2 linked regions of the Homo sapiens genome follow. The protein of the gene in region 1 interacts with the protein of each later gene in a pairwise test. Each region holds a gene or a part of one and is shown on either strand. Other genes may lie near its edges.

The links. Proteins that work in one complex are often made in the same cells at the same time.
Region 2: the proteins of RALB (region 1) and EXOC2 interact in a two-hybrid assay, tested with the Homo sapiens proteins (2 studies listed by BioGRID).

Annotation. Positions count from the first base shown.
Region 1 is NC_000002.12:120,283,596-120,291,296, forward strand, and holds part of RALB (ras-related protein Ral-B), read left to right. Parts: intron 1-2,278; coding exon 2,279-2,487; intron 2,488-5,984; coding exon 5,985-6,162; intron 6,163-7,701. UniProt on the Homo sapiens protein: Multifunctional GTPase involved in a variety of cellular processes including gene expression, cell migration, cell proliferation, oncogenic transformation and membrane trafficking.
Region 2 is NC_000006.12:689,828-697,933, reverse strand, and holds the start of EXOC2 (exocyst complex component 2), read left to right. Parts: upstream 1-4,794; 5' UTR 4,795-4,915; exon of another isoform or gene 4,916-5,660; intron 5,661-8,106. UniProt on the Homo sapiens protein: Component of the exocyst complex involved in the docking of exocytic vesicles with fusion sites on the plasma membrane.

The DNA of each region.
Region 1 (7,701 bases):
GCTCCTTATGCTCGGCCTAACATACTCGTTTTTGCCTTTTTTGGGAGAGTAAGGTTGGGGATGGAGAGGCTTTGGCAGCAACCGTTTCAGACTTTCAGTCTCTGGCAGCTTAGAGGAAAGTCAGCTTAGAAAGAAAGGGTCCACGTGAAGTTTGTCTTAGACTCTTGGGCATCTGAAACTGAGCCATGCAGAGCTCTGCAAGGCCAGTAGGGGATACGTATGGTTCACGCTAATGGATACAAAGACTTTGTGATTTTCTGTTTCCAGCTGAGCAATGTAAATAAACATCAGGGTTGTAATGGAATGTTGGGGTAATCAGCATACTTTTCATTGAGTACAGAGGTATGTAGGTACAGCAGGACATTCTGACTTCTGTGTCAAAGGAGCCAGTGGAACTCTGGCTGGCTTTATCCTTGGAAGCTCAGAAATATACAGTTGAGATAATTTATGGTAGAATTCAGAGATTTTCAGGGGACAGTCGTGTGTTGGATTTTTTTGGCGTGTATTTTTCTTTTTGGAAAGGAGTTAAAAGAAGGACACTTGAAAGCACAGGCAAGTTTTCACATCTCTATTTGGAGATAATTTATTAGTACACGTTGAAGAGAACCTAATACTAAACATGTCTTAATATTTTTATTTTTGAGTAGCTGTTAACTGACAATACAAGGCTCTTTTTAACAGTCTTCCTCAAATAACCTTTAATTCACTTGGACATTTTCAATTCCATTTTTAAGTTAAAAAAATTTTAAATCACAGCCTTATTAAGATGTAATGCACATATGAAATTCGCTCTTTTTAAAGTGTACAATTTTTTTTTTTTGAGATGTAGTTTTTCTCTTGTTGCCTAGGCTGGAGTGCAATGGCACGATCTTGGTTCACTGCAAGCGCCACTTCCCAGGTTCAAGTGATTCTCCTGCCTCAGCCTCCTGAGTAGCTGGGATTACAGGTGTGCACCACCATACCTGGCTAATCTTTTGTATTTTTAGTAGAGATGGGTTTTCACCATGTTAGCCAGGCTGGTCTCGAACTCCTGACCTCAGGTGATCTGCCTGCCCCGGCCTAAAGTGTACAATTTAATAGGTTTTTTTTGTATATTCATACAGATGTGCAACCATCACCATTATCTAATTTTAGATCACTTTCATCACTCCAAAAAAAACCAACCTACGTATTAGTAGTCATTCCCCGTTATTGCTTCCCCGTCCCACCCCTGGCCTCTGGCAACTGCTTTCTGCTTCTATGGATTTGCCTATTCTGGACATTTCATATAGATGGAATCATACAATATGTGGCCTTTATGTCTAACTTCTTTCACTCAGCATCATGTTTTGAAAGTTGTTCCATGTTGCAGCGTGCGTTGGTACTACTTCATTCCTTTCTCAAAAACCCACACCACTGAAAGCCTCTTGGTACACTGTGTTAGTTCATTCTCTTGATGCTGTGAAGAAATACCCAAGACTGGGTAGTTTATAAAGAAAAGAGGTGTATAGCCTCTTTTCTTCCACAGGGCTGGGGAGGCCTCAGGAAACTTACAATCATGGCAGAAGGGGGAGCAAACATGTCCTTCACAAGGCGCCAGGAAGAAGTGCAGAGCGAAGTGGGGAAAAGCCCCTTATGAAACCATCAGGTCCTGTGAGAACGAACTCACTATCACAAGAACAGCATAGGGGTACCGCCCCCATGATCTCATTGTCTCCCATAAGGTCACTTCCCCAACACATTGGGATGATAATTCGGATTACAACCTAAATGATGAGATTTGGGTGGGGATGCAGAACCAGACCATATCATACATCTTGCCAAATTACTTTTCAGATGAATTTTATACTTCCGTTATGAATAAGAACTCCAGTTTTTTGATATACCTAATGTTAAATGACGAGTTAATGGGTGCAGCACACCAACATGACACGTGTATACATGTGTAACAAACCTGCACATTGTGCATATGTACCCTAAAACTTAAAGTATAATTAAAAAAGAATTCCAGTTTCTCACCCTTGCAGGTGTTTGCATTAAAATTTTATACTGACAATAATATTGCCAAGTGTTCTGCTCTGTGCCTGGTTTCCTCATCTGTAAATTGGGATATCTGCCTGTATTGTTTAAAAACAAAAAATGGCAAAACAGAGCTATAAAGAACAGAAGTGTTACGTAAAATGTTGCTTCTGTAGTGTCCTGTTCATAGTGTGAAGTGCCCATATGTGGAATTTTGTTTTTTGGCAGATTTTGTTCCCCTTAAGACTTTGTTAATTACCGATAATGTTTATTTCCTCAGTTTGTAGAAGACTATGAACCTACCAAAGCTGACAGTTATAGAAAGAAAGTGGTTCTTGATGGGGAAGAAGTTCAGATAGATATTCTGGACACCGCTGGGCAAGAGGACTACGCAGCCATTCGAGATAACTACTTTCGGAGTGGGGAAGGGTTTCTTCTTGTGTTCTCAATCACAGAACATGAATCCTTTACAGCAACTGCCGAATTCAGGTATGTCTGAAATGAAATAGCAGAAGCCCCCAGGAAGCTTTTTGCCTTTTCTCATATGTCTTAGGCCTATGAAGAATTTGGGGCTGAGCATACTAGGAGAGGGCTGAGCTTGTTCTCAGGAATAATTCTGTCTAAAGAATCTTCTGGGGCTTTCTGAATCTTGGCACATTATAGACTATGATGATTATAATCTCTTTGGGCTTTCCTGATCTGTGATTTCTGAATAAAATAATTTTAAGAGTCTTACTGTCCCCGAAAACAATGAAGCTATTCCATATAATCAAGAACATATAATTTTGTTCCTATAAATACTCAGAGATTTTCATTGATAAATTAACCATCTATCCTTTAAATAATGTTACTAAAAAAAGTAGCAGGTTTAGTCTGTGTTGAAGGTTATGAAACAATGACTGGAAAGTGAAAGATGGGAGTCAAAATGACCATTTGCTGCTACTTAAGGACTTTCAGCACAGTGGAGGGACGAGAACGCGGCTTTAGAGTCAGGAGACCTGGTTTGAATCCCTGCCTTGCCGCTCACTGACCATGGGCAAGTTTACTTAGTGTCAGGATTTTGTTTCTTTCTCTGGAAATGCACTTGTGAGTTGAGAAATGAAATGAAAGGATGTATTAGACTGTGAATTTCATGTGGGCAAGAACCTGGCTACCCTCCATTGTCCCCTGTCACAGTGTAGACACATGGTGCTTCCATAGTGAGTAGAATATCCATTGTTATTTATTTTAAAATATGGCAACTATTCTCCATGAAGGTGTTAGAGAAGAAAGAAAAAGAAAATATAGCAGTGAAAAAAATACCTTCAGTTCATTTTGTTATAAAGAAATAGCCTTTTGGGCATAATTCTTATGCTCTATAAATGTCTCTTTACCCCATGCCCTTCCCTTTCTCCTACATAATTGAGTTTTAAAAAATCTGTTCTTCTTATAAACATATCTATCTAGATGACTTTTTAAGAAGCAGATCTAGAGTTTAGTAGGGAACTGAAGAGAAAAAACCCAAAAATCAAATCAGTTTTTTTCATTCTTCAGCAAGTTCTGGTCTGACAGTAAGGTGGTCAACCAGAGGTGAAAAGGAGAAAGCTAGCTATCCTTCCAGGACTTGGATGGAAGCATCACTGAGCCAGGGAGGCCTCGGGTGAGCACAGGTCACCCAGCAGGGCTAGTGAAAGATAATAGGGAGGTGCCTCAGTGATGCTTCATAGCTCCAGGCTTCAGAGTCGAAGACCTACTTTTCTGGAAGCAGAGTGCGTGTGGTGCAGTGACTAGTTAAGTGACTATGACTCATTATGAGAAGTTCTGTTAATTTTTAGACATTTCAGACCTTCCTAAGGGCTGCTCTGTTTGAATGTAGCCCATGTATTTATAATTGTTTGCATCTGCGTAGTCCTGTTTTTAATGCCTCATAGAGGGTAAAACAGGACAGATGCACACACTCTCTTCTTTTCTTCCCTGTCCCGAGCCTTTTGATTTCCTGTTGTTCTGTGACTTACTTAGAAGGGAAGTGGGCAGGAGAGTTCTCTGCAGAGGATATGGAGAAATACAGGTATTTCAAGTGCTCCTTGTCCTCTCCTCAGTCACCACACATGCACAGATAGCACTCGGGCGTTCTCACAGAGTTGGAGCAGGGCTCCCCTCAATGTGGAAAAGGGTTTTGGTTGTTAGGTGGAAAGAGAGATCCTTAGAAGAAAAAGGACAGATGAATACCTAAAACCAGAAAGAAGGGGAAGTTGACCTCTGCGTAGGTTTCTCATGTTGTTGGGAACAGAAGAATGCAGGTCAATTATCTGAGCCCTGTGGCTAAACTCAAGTCACTTTACTTCATGTCTGTTAGCAGTTTTAAAACAGCATTTGTGTACTATCTTCCAAATAGAAAGGCCCCAATATAAAATGACATGTGAATATGCTGTCTTCCTTGAAACTTTTTCTGGAAAATATTTTATGAACTAAGATAAGTTCTGTCATAAGAGACCAGAACTTGGTACTCCCATTTTTGGATCGATATGTTTATCAATGAGGTAATTTTGTGTGCCCCTGCAAGACTAATGAGCCAGAAAGCTATCAGTTTTTATTGTTCATAGTTTATAATGATCACATGACTTCAAATGTATCATGTTCTTTGACCCCAGTTCAAATGTAGGCTATAACAAGGCTACACAAAGCCAATTTCAAGCATCTTTTCATCTTTTTTAGTTTGTCTTAAAATATTTGATGTCTGGCACTTAAATTGACTACATGAAAATTTTAGTTTTTTTTTTTGTTTTTTTTTTTGTAGATACAAGGTCTCCCTATGTTGCCCAGGCTGGTCTTGAACTCCTGGGCTCAAGTGTTCCTCCCTCCTCAGGCTCCCAGAGTGCTGGCATTACAGATGTGAGCCACCACGCCTAGAAAATATTTTTATTATTGTGAAATGTTACCCTATACCATATAAAAATCAATACAGATCTCTACAAAATACATTTTTGAAGGGGACTCTTTTTAGAATGTATTGGCATATAAAAGTAGAAATATTCTCATGGGACCAAAATAATGGAAATGGGGTATTTAATTTTTTTAAATATTTAGTTTTGATTAGTACTTTCAGATAGCTGATAATTTTTAGTAGACGTAAAATTTAATATGCTACGAGTAATGGTATTTTTGTAGAAGACACTTTTGAAGTACTTTTCCATAGGGCTTGTCGTATTTCCTTTCATTTTTTTCACTTTGTAGTAGAAAAATGGTACGTATTGGAATGTGATTACTGCCTAACATATCTGTCTCGATTCTGTGGCCTATAACATTACTGTGTCTGCATGGAAACTGGGGATGGGATGACATACTTGTCGTGTACACATGCAGATCTAATCAAAACTGAAGTTTCAAAACAATACAATATTCACCTTTCCTACTTGAGATTCCCTTGGATATTTCTGATCTGGTCAGTTCTGTTCTATAATCTATTTCACTGCAGGGGGGAGAAACTGCTGGTTGCGACCCACTAGATTGGTTTTGTGATCCACTAATAGGCTGCCACCTTCCATATAGAAAACACTGGATTTCATAGCTTTTATGTCACAAACAAATATTTTCAGGGGAATTAAGCATTTTATGGAGATAGTTCCCTTAGCTTGTTTTTATTGCAGAGATTGACCATTTTTCTTCTTTTTGTTTTTTTTTTTGTGTGTGCATAAGTTGGGGACCCTGTTGTGACGTAAAATCCTGGGCTCCTATCCAGACACTTCTGTAAGACTGAGCCCAGAAATCTGCATTTGTGATGAGCATCCCAGGGGATTCTGATGTGGGCAAACTGAGAAGCAGACTTGGAAAACACTTGTCTTGCTCATGACTGCCTCTAGGGAGTGCTTTCTCAGAACATGCCCTAAATCTAGTGATTTTTTTTTTTCCTTCTGCCTTAGGAAAGCCTTTTATTTTAGATGGGTTCACAAAACCAGGGTTCGTTCTTTAGTTTTTTTAGCTGCTGTATTTTTGGTGTAACACCTTAGGGAACAGATTCTCCGTGTGAAGGCTGAAGAAGATAAAATTCCACTGCTCGTCGTGGGAAACAAGTCTGACCTAGAGGAGCGGAGGCAGGTGCCTGTGGAGGAGGCCAGGAGTAAAGCCGAAGAGTGGGGCGTGCAGTACGTGGAGACGTCAGCGAAGACCCGGGCCAACGTGGACAAGGTAGGCGTGAATTCTGTGTATTTCTCAGAAACAGACCTGAGAAACAGCAGAATGGAGGCATCTCATCTGCTGGGTTTTAGGGAACCATTTATGAAAACTAGGTGAAGATTCTGATTCCTATGAATGTCTAAGCCATTATCATGATTATAATGAGAAACATTGAGAGGATGTCACCTTGTATTTCAGACAACTCACAGAACCTTTTACTTTGTCATGAGGCTTCATTAGAGTATGCTTAATGTGTTCTTTTGGGTTTTTCTTTTTTGAGACAAAGTCTCACTGTGACACCAGGCTGGAGTGGTGTGATCTCAGTTCACTGCAACCTCTGCCTCCTGGGCTCAAGCAATCCTCCTACCTCAGCCTCCCAAGTAGCTGGGACTACAGGTGTGCACCACCACACTGGCTGTTTTTTGTGGAGATGGGGTTTCACCATGTTGCCCAGGGTGGTCTCAAATTCCTGGGCTCAAGTGATCTGCCTGCCTCAGCCTCCCAAAGTGCTGGGATTACAGGTGTGAGCCACCACACCCGGCGGACTATGCTTACTGTTGGTGTGGTCCTGGGAAGGATGGTGGGACGAGGCCATTGGTTTGTGAAGGCTGGGCTGGAGGGATGGACGTCATTAGCTTCTGTGTGTGCTCTCACCTTCCACAGCCTTGCTCTTCAGGAGCAGGGTGGGCGGGCCTGGCTGCTTCTAGGAGGTTCCCCTGGAGGTGCCCTTGAAAGATACGTGGAGCTTCTTGATTTTGCTCTCATTGAGTTATTGGTCAGATTTGTTCTTTTCACCTTACTGTTCACTGACAGAGCCACAGTGTTCCATCTTTGTAGTGTAGTCTCTAAATAGTATTTGCTCTCAGAACTCAAATCTCTGGGATCTCTTTTTTTTTTTTATCTCTTATCCCATCCCAGCATACTTTCTCATTCAAATCTCTGAAGCTAATAAAAGGGTGACCTTGAGTGACAATGATGAATGCTGACAATTTGAAAATCCACCTATCAGGGATTGCTATTGTTAGGCCTTTTTTCTTTTTAAAATTAAAGTTCAAGGTGGTTGCCACACAGCTAAAATTTTAACGCTGTGCCTTAAAGATGAGGCTTTCTGCCTTGACCTCATTCACTAGCTCTCACTGCATATCCATGTGCTTGTAGAATCTAAGCACATAGCACTTTGGCAGCCACACAGTGGACACGTCTGCTTTTTGTTCTGCAGCATCAGCATCTGAATCCCCTATATCCTGTCTTCTGTTTCTCTTTCTTGTGCAGAAACATTCCCCTTTGCTTTCATTACCTGACAAGGGAGAGATTTTTATCCAAGCTTTATTTTCACTTGAAGTGATGCTAGAAGAACATTGGTATTTAGAATGTTGGTATTAGAAGGGGTTTGCTTTAGACGCACTTCGGCAAGATACATCTATTTGTATGTATCGTACATAAAAACATGTATCTTAGGAGACATATACATATAGGATAGATATACATATAGGATACATATATTGTACAACCTAAGTCCGTTTAGTTGTAATCTGCAATGGGAAGCGCGTG
Region 2 (8,106 bases), on another chromosome or scaffold:
GACATTCTGTAAGCAATTGGGTAGTCATGCCTGGAAGGCTCTACAAGCAAGGAAGACAAACCCAAACCCAAACCCAGAATATGCATCTGGGCCTATGGAAATCAACTTGCCACCGAGAGACGGCAGCCACCATACCATGGGCTGCCCATTGGCCTCTACGGCTGGAGAGGGCAGAGGCACTGTCTAGATCTGCCTTTTTCTGTGGGTCCCTGTAGCCTCCAACCCTGTGAATGGCCATTCCATTCACAGGCCCATTGTGCAGAGACTGCCTGACCTGCCCTAGCTGAATCATCCCATTTGCTCTGTGCTCTGCTGCGGATGCTGTCTGCCGGGCAGGCATTTGTGTAAGACACATAGATGGGCCAAATACTGTTTGTGTGAGGAGCATGTGTGAGTTCTTGAGCTGAGAGGCTGTGATATCCACAGCATGGTTATGCAGCTGCTTCCTGGCCACCCTCCTCTCCATCCAGCTCTTATGTTTCTCCAGCAGGTCTCCTACCTTTGGGAATTTCTGCACCAAAAGCAGGCACATACTCTTGGTCACATATAGTCCTGAGGGCAGCCCAACTCCGCCAAGAACTCCACACTGATGCTCAGCTCCACTCTGACAGCAGCAAGCACAGGCTCGTGGGTGCCTCGAGCCAACAGGTACTAACCCAGATTAAAACAGCTGAGTGAATTCCTCATAAGCTCCAAAAGGCATCTAACCCAGATTAAAACAGCTGAGTGAATTCCTCATAAGCTCCAAGAGGCGTCTAACCCAGATTAAAACAGCTGAGTGAATTCCTCATAAGCTTCAAGAGGTGTCTTACCCAATTGCTGGGGGCTTTCTTTTCTTCCTTTTCTTTTTTTTTGACAGCGTCTCACTCCGTAGCCTAGGCTGGAGTGCAGTGGCACAATCTCGGCTCACTGCAACCTCCGCCTCCAGGGTTCAAGTGATTCTCCTGTCTCAGCCTCCCAAGTAGCTGGGACTACAGGCACGTGCAACCACGCCCGGCTAATTTTTTGTATTTTTAGTAGAGACGGCGTTTCACCATGTTAGCCAGGATGGTCTCAACCTCCTGGCCTCATGATCCACCCGCCTTGGCCTCCCAAAGTGCTGGGATTACAAGCATGAGCCACCGCGCCCGGCCAGGGGGCTTTCTCTATAGTGCGGGGAGACTTTAGGGTGACCATATAGCGTCTAAAAGGAACACTTTTGACAGTAAAAAGGGCACTCAATAATTAAGCCTTCATAACAGACACAAATCAGTCATCCCACGCAAAGTGGAACATGTGGTCACCTTAGTTATCTGCCTTCTTTGCCAGTTCAAGTGGCCAATTCCAGGATAACCAGAAAAACCCATCTAAATATCCTGTCACACCAGCTTAAACCCCATGATCCTGTCTGATGTTATTTCTCTGCATAGAACCCGAACTCCTCTGTTCCCTGCTCCATCTTCTGTGTCAAACTCCAATCTCAGCTACAACTAATTTTCTAACTCCCTGCCTGCACTAGAGCAGCCAAAACAACACAAGCAGGCCGACTGGTTCCATTTGAGACTTAAGACCACACATCCCAAGTGGGCATTCTGCCCTGCCTGGCAATCTGGCTACATATCCTTAACAATTCGCCTTACAATGTCTAAGTTAACAATCTCACCCCTTCTCAGTCCTCCCTCGTCCCCACCCCCTGCTCACAGATGATCTTGTTGGTTCCTTTGTTAACACAGAAGCAACCAGAAGAGTATTTTCTCACTTTCTCCTCACCATGTCTACCAACCCACAGCTATAGCTTCACATTCCGCTCACTCTCCTACTACACAGCTCAACTCTGGTGGCTCCTAAGAACAACCTCTGCCCTCGTGCAACAGGTCCTACCCTCTCTTACCTTTCTCAAAGACTTGCTCTGCAGTTGCTCCCTCTCTCCTGCATCAGCGGTTCCCTCTTTACATGTTTTGTTAATAGCTCCCATCTTAAAACAGACTTTTTCCTTGATACCATGCCTCTCTAGCAACTACCGCCCATCTCTGCTCCCTTTGTCACACAACTCCTCAGAGGGGTTGTCAAAGTAGCCAGATGAAAATACAGAACATCCAGTTAAATGTGAATTTCAGATAGTAACAATTTAGTATACGTATGTCCCGTGCAATATTGGGGCCGTACTTTTACTAACAAATACTAAAACTGTGTCTGGAATTGGTAAGTTCTTGGTCTCACTGACTTCAAGAATGAAGCCGCGGACCCTTGCGGTATGTGTTACAGTTCCTAAAGGCGGCGTATCTGGAGTTTGCTCCTTCTGATGTTCAGATGTGTTCGGAGTTTCTTCCTTCTGGTAGGGTCGTGATCTCGCTGGTTCAGGAGTGAAGCTAGAGACCTTCGCGGCGAGAGTTACAGCTCATAGAGGCAGTGTGGACCCAAAGTATAAACAGCAGCCAGATTTACCCCAAAGAGCAAAAAAATAAAACTTCCACAGTGTGGAAAGAAACCGGAGCAAACTACCACTGCCAGCTCGGGCAGGCTGCGTTTATTCTCTTATCTGGCCCCCACCCACATCCTGCTGATGATTGGTCCATTTTACAGAGAGCCGATTGGTCCATTTTACAGAGAGCTGATCGGTCCATTTTGACAGGGTGCTGATTGGTGCGTTTACAATCCCTGAGCTGGACACAAAAGTTCTCCACCTCCCCACGAGATTAGCTAGACACAGATTTTGGACACAAAGGTTCTCCAAGTCCCCACCAGAGTAGCTAGATACAGAGTGTCGATTGGTGCATTCACAAACCCTGAGCTAGACACAGGGTGCGGACTGGTGTGTTTACAAACCTTGAGCTAGATACAGTGTGCCGATTGGTGTATTTATAATCCCTGGGCTAGACATAAAGGTTCTCCAAGTCCCCACCAGACTCAGGAACCCAGCTGGCTTCACCCAGTGGATCCCGACCGGGGCCGCAGGTGGAGCCGCCTGCCAGTCCCGAGCCATGCGCCCACACTCCTCAGCCCTTGGGTGGTCGATGGGACTGGGGGCCGTGAAGCAGGGGGCAGCGCTCGTCGGGGAGGCTCGGGCGCACGGAAGCCCATGGCGGGGGGGGTTGGCTCAGGCACTGCAGGCTGCAGGTCCCCAGCCCTGCCCCGCGGGAAGGCAGCTAAGGCCCGGGGAGAAATTGAGCACAGCAGCTGCTGGCCCAGGTGCTAAGCCCCTCACTGCCCAGGGCCGGCGGGTTGGCTGGCCGCTCCGAGTGCCGGCCCGCTGAGCCCACGCCCACCCAGAACTCGCGCTGGCCCGCAAGTGCCGCACGCAGCCCGGGTTCCCACCAGCGCCTCTCCCTCCACACCTCCCCACAAGCTGAGGGAGCCGGCTCCGGCCTTGGCCAGCCTAGAAAGGGGCTCCCACAGTGCAGCGGTGGGCTGAAGGGCTCCTCAAGCACAGCCAGAGTGGGTGCCAAGGCCGAGGAGGTGCCCAGAGCGAGCGAGGGCTGTGAGGGCTGCCAGCACGCTGTCACCTCTCAAAACAATGTTTTAGTAGAAGTATATCCCATGCAACATTAGTTTAGTGATAAATATATCTATACTACAAATTACTTGTTGTTTATCTGAAATTAAACTTTACTGGGTATTTGTATTTTTATTGCTAAATCTGCCAACCTAGGTTGTTGAAACTTACTTTTTTCCACTTCACTTAATATTCTTTTCACAGTCCACTCTGACGAGATGTAGCTTCCCCACACTCCTTTGAAACTGCTTTTGTCAAGGATGCCAATGACTGGCATATGCCAAACTCAATTGTCTCTGGAGTCTTGGCCTCACAGTACTTCTGAACATTGGCTATCAATTCCTCCTTCCTGAAACTATTTAGCTTCCAGAATCCGCTACCCCCACTTTCCTGATTGTCCTTCCTCCCTGGCCATAGCCCCTGAACCCGAGCTTCCCCCAACCTAGAGCATCCCCTGACCCTAAGTATCCCCCCAACCCTGAGAACCCCCTGACCCCGAGTATCCCCCGACCTCGAGAACTCCCCGACCCCGAGCATCCCCCCAACCCCCAGCATCCCACGACCCCGGGCATCTCCCCCGATCCTGCGCATCCCCTGACCTGGTATGGCGCCCTGACCCAGTGCAGCCCTCAAACCCCTGCAGCCCCCTGACCCCATGCATCCTCCTGACCTAGGGCTGCCCCTGACTCAATGTTGCCCCCGGACCCCAGTGCCTCCTCCTGACCTGAGGCACGCCCCCCAACCTGGTACAGTCCCCTGATTCCAGTGCATCCTTCTGACCCAGTGCTGCCTCCTAACCTGGTGCATCCTCCTTACCCAGTGTGGCCCCCTGGGGATGCACACTCCAGTGCATCCTCCTGACCTGATGCTTCCTCTGGTCTCGGTGCAGCCCCCCTGACCTGGTGCAGCCCTCTGATTCCATGCATTCTCTTGACCTTGTGCATCCCCCTGTTCCGGAGGGGTCCTCTGACCCGATGCAGGGCCCATCGTTGTGAACTGTGGCCCACAAACGCACTATCATCCCACAGTCTCCCTGAGATGACCCGAGGGCACGGGGATGGATGGTGCACCCGGCCTGCCCCTTGAGCTTGTATCCTTCTTTCCCTCCCTCACCGCTTCCCGCCACCGCAAAGACGCCCAGCAAAAACCTCCTACTCGTGTCCATTCAGGCAGCTGGGTCCCTCGGAACCCAAGGCATTCCAGCGTCCACCGCCCACGGCCCCTGCTGACCTCCAGCACCCGCGCCGGTCTCCTCCCCTCCTCTACCCTCCCCTGAAGGCTCCGCCCATCGAGGACTCGGCGCTCGACTGCCAGGCGGATCTACACGCTCGGCGCTCGCGGCGGGCGGAAGTGAGGTGCCGGCGGCTGGCGGCCGCGGAGTCTTCGGCGAGACCTACCGGGCCCTGTCTGTGCCGGCCGTGAGCTGCGGCAGGACGGCTGGAGGTATGTGTGGGAGGCTGGAGGGCCTGGCCGAAGGCCAGCGGGACATGGACGTCAGCTGCACGGAGGTGGCCGCCTGCGGCGTCCGTCCAGGCCTCAGCGGTGAAGGGACAGCCGCGCCCACTGGCGCCGTCGGTCACCTGCGGGGCCCCGCGACCCCCCGCGGTTCCCAGCCCCGCAGCCCCCATCCCCGCCGTCAGCCGCCTGCTGGGCTCCGCGCCCACCCCCGCCAGTTCGCACCCCCGCGGTCCCCACCTGCGCCGGTGAGGGGCGTGGGCTGCAGAGGGCTGACTCCAGGCCCCGCCCGCTGGAGCTGGCCCCAGACTGCGCCGCTTCGCCCTTGCGCAGTTGCCACTCCGTGAGATTTGAGAATTTCTCCGGAAAAGTGAACGCGAGGCGGGTGTTACCTGTCTGCCTAGGCGTGCATCCCGCTCTGGCTGTCCTGAGCGCTTAAAAGGCGCCTGCCGCTGTTGTCAGCGTTTGCGTGCACGTACTTGATCCTCGCGCGGGTGTATGTACGCTGCCGTGTGACCCATTTTACGGATAGGGGAGCGGCGGCTCAGAGTGCTTGAGCAAAGAGCCTGAGGTCCTGTTGTAGCTGCCATTGAGACCTTGCGCGCCGGCTCCAGGTCCGCACACCAGCAGCCTGGAAGCCTGGTGATGCGTAACCCTGTATCCCAAGATTGTTAAGAAAACACTTTAGTAATTCCGAGAAATAGTTCTTGAAAGAACTCGTCTTTGAATGGAAGTAAGTTATTTTTAATCTGCCAAAGGTCAACATACTAATAAGTCTGAGAAATTTTAAGTCTGATGCCTTTATGAATCTGTGAGTAAACTTACAAGGAACACTTAAAAAATATTTTTTCTAAGTTAGCCACACTTTAATTAAATCTTTTTGTGTGCACTATGCAATATTGAAAAGTTACTTCTGAGCTTATGTGGATCTGTCTTCTAATGCATAATAATGTTTTGTTTATGAATGTTAGTATGTACTGGCCCATGCTTTGTGTAACTGACTCCTTTAATGACAAATCAACTGAAAGCCAGAATCTTCTCAAAGATGATTTTTTTGTGCTAAAAGTTGGCGATTCCCAGAGTAGTAATAGAAAGAGGGTGATGTGTGCTTAGTACTTACATGTTCACTTGTTTGTCTAAGTAGAAACTTAATAAATTAAAGCAGAGAAGCAGAGTTCCCCCAGTGTGACTTGGACCAACTCTTGGAAGTTTTAGAAAGTGATCTTTTTTTCTTGTCAAGTATTTAATTTCCTGTATTGAATGCCATTTTGAACTACAGTTGACCCTTGAACAACACTGGGGTTAGGGGTGCCCACGCAGTCAAAAATTTCCATGTAACTTTTGACTTTCCCAGGACTTTACTAATAGCCTACTGTTGACCAGAAGCCTTACTGATACATAAACAGTTGACTTACATGTATTTTGTATGTTATACGTATTATATACTGTATTCTTAAAGTAAGCTGAGAGAGGAAAATGTTAAAATCACAACAAATGTATTTACTCTTCTTTAAATGAAAGTGGAGAATCATGAAGGTTATTATCCCCATAGTCTGCATGAGTAGATTGTGGAGGAGGAAGAAGAGGAGGGATTTTCTCAGGAATGGCAGAGATGGAAGAGATGGAGGAAGTGAAAGGGGAGTGGGAGATGCAGGCACACTCAGTGCAACTTTTGTTGAAAAAATCCGTGTATAAGTGGATCTGTCTCATTCAAACCCATGTTGCTTAAGGGTCAACTGTATTACTTTTCTAAAAGATGGTTATTAACTTGCTAAGTTCTTGGGAGCCCATTATGTAAGAATCATATGGGAAATGAAGTTGGTACTGAAAAAATAGTCTTCTAGCAAAGAACTTTTAATATTTCTAGTGTCAAGCAGCAGCAAGATTAGGCCATACAGGAAGTGCTGGTTACAGAGGTGTCCTCTCAGTTACTTTTCCACTCATTCTCCAGTTTACGCATCTTAATCCAGCCTGGGTTCCTAGTCCAGCGTCTGCCACATAGTAGGTGCTTAAATGTTTATTGAATGGATGAATTTTAGGTCACTGTTGAGAGGATTTTGAAACTGGGAAATAACATTCATTGATCACTCTGCTAAGCGGTGTACTAGGATGTTGATTGTACTCAGATCCTGGGGAATATGTTCTTGGACCTTCTGGACTGCCTGCTGAAATCACATGGTGATAGTGTGGACTTCTAATCATATGCTTTAGAGTATGTTTATATTAGTCAAAAATTATTATTGATATGAATACACAAACTTAAAAGTAATTGTAATGAAATTATGAATCTTTTTTGTATTTTTAAAGACAGAGTCTCACCCTGTTGCCTAGGCTGAAGTACAGTGGCGAGATCTCTGCTCAGTGCAAGCTCTGCCTCCCGGGTTCACGCCATTCTGCCGCCTCAGCCTCCCAAGTAGCTGGGACTACAGGCGCCCGTCACCACGCCCGACTAACTTTTTGTATTTTTAGTAGAGACGGGGTTTCACCGTCGCGATCCTCGTGACGGTGGACCTCGTGATCCACCCACCTCGGCCTCCCAGAGTGCTGGGATTACAGGCGTGAACCCCTGCGCCGGGCCGGGAAATTATGAATCTTAAAGCGATGGGTGACACACGCATCGGCATCCTTCAATCTCAGTTTGTTTATTGATTGAAAGGGGGTCTTGTTCTGTCACCCAGGCTAGAGTGCAGTGGCACAGTCACAACACACTGCAGCCTTGAGCGCCATGATTCCAGAAATCCTTCTACCTCAGCCTCCCAAGTAGCTGGGACTATAGGTGCGTGCCACCGGGTTCGGCTCATTTTAAAAATTATTTGTGGAGGTGAGGTCTTCCTACGTTGCCCAGGCTGGTCTTGAACTCCTGAATGCAAGTGATGCGCTGGCCTCAGCTTCCCAGTGCTGGGACTATAGGTGTGACCCACTGTGCCTGGCTGATCTCAATTTGAAAATCACAGAGTCAAAAGGTATTTTTGGCTTAGGCGTCAAAGCAACTATACACTGGTCCTTGGTCTAATCTGGTCTGCTTCATAGTACTGGCTGAGTTGCTTAGATGCTTTGGACTGTTTCCTTTTTTGTGTATTCAGAGAATACATGCAGTTAGATTATCTCTGAAATCCTTCCTGCCTTGAAATTTTCCAACTCAGTGAATCCTATAACCACCTAGCACTTGTCTTATAGCA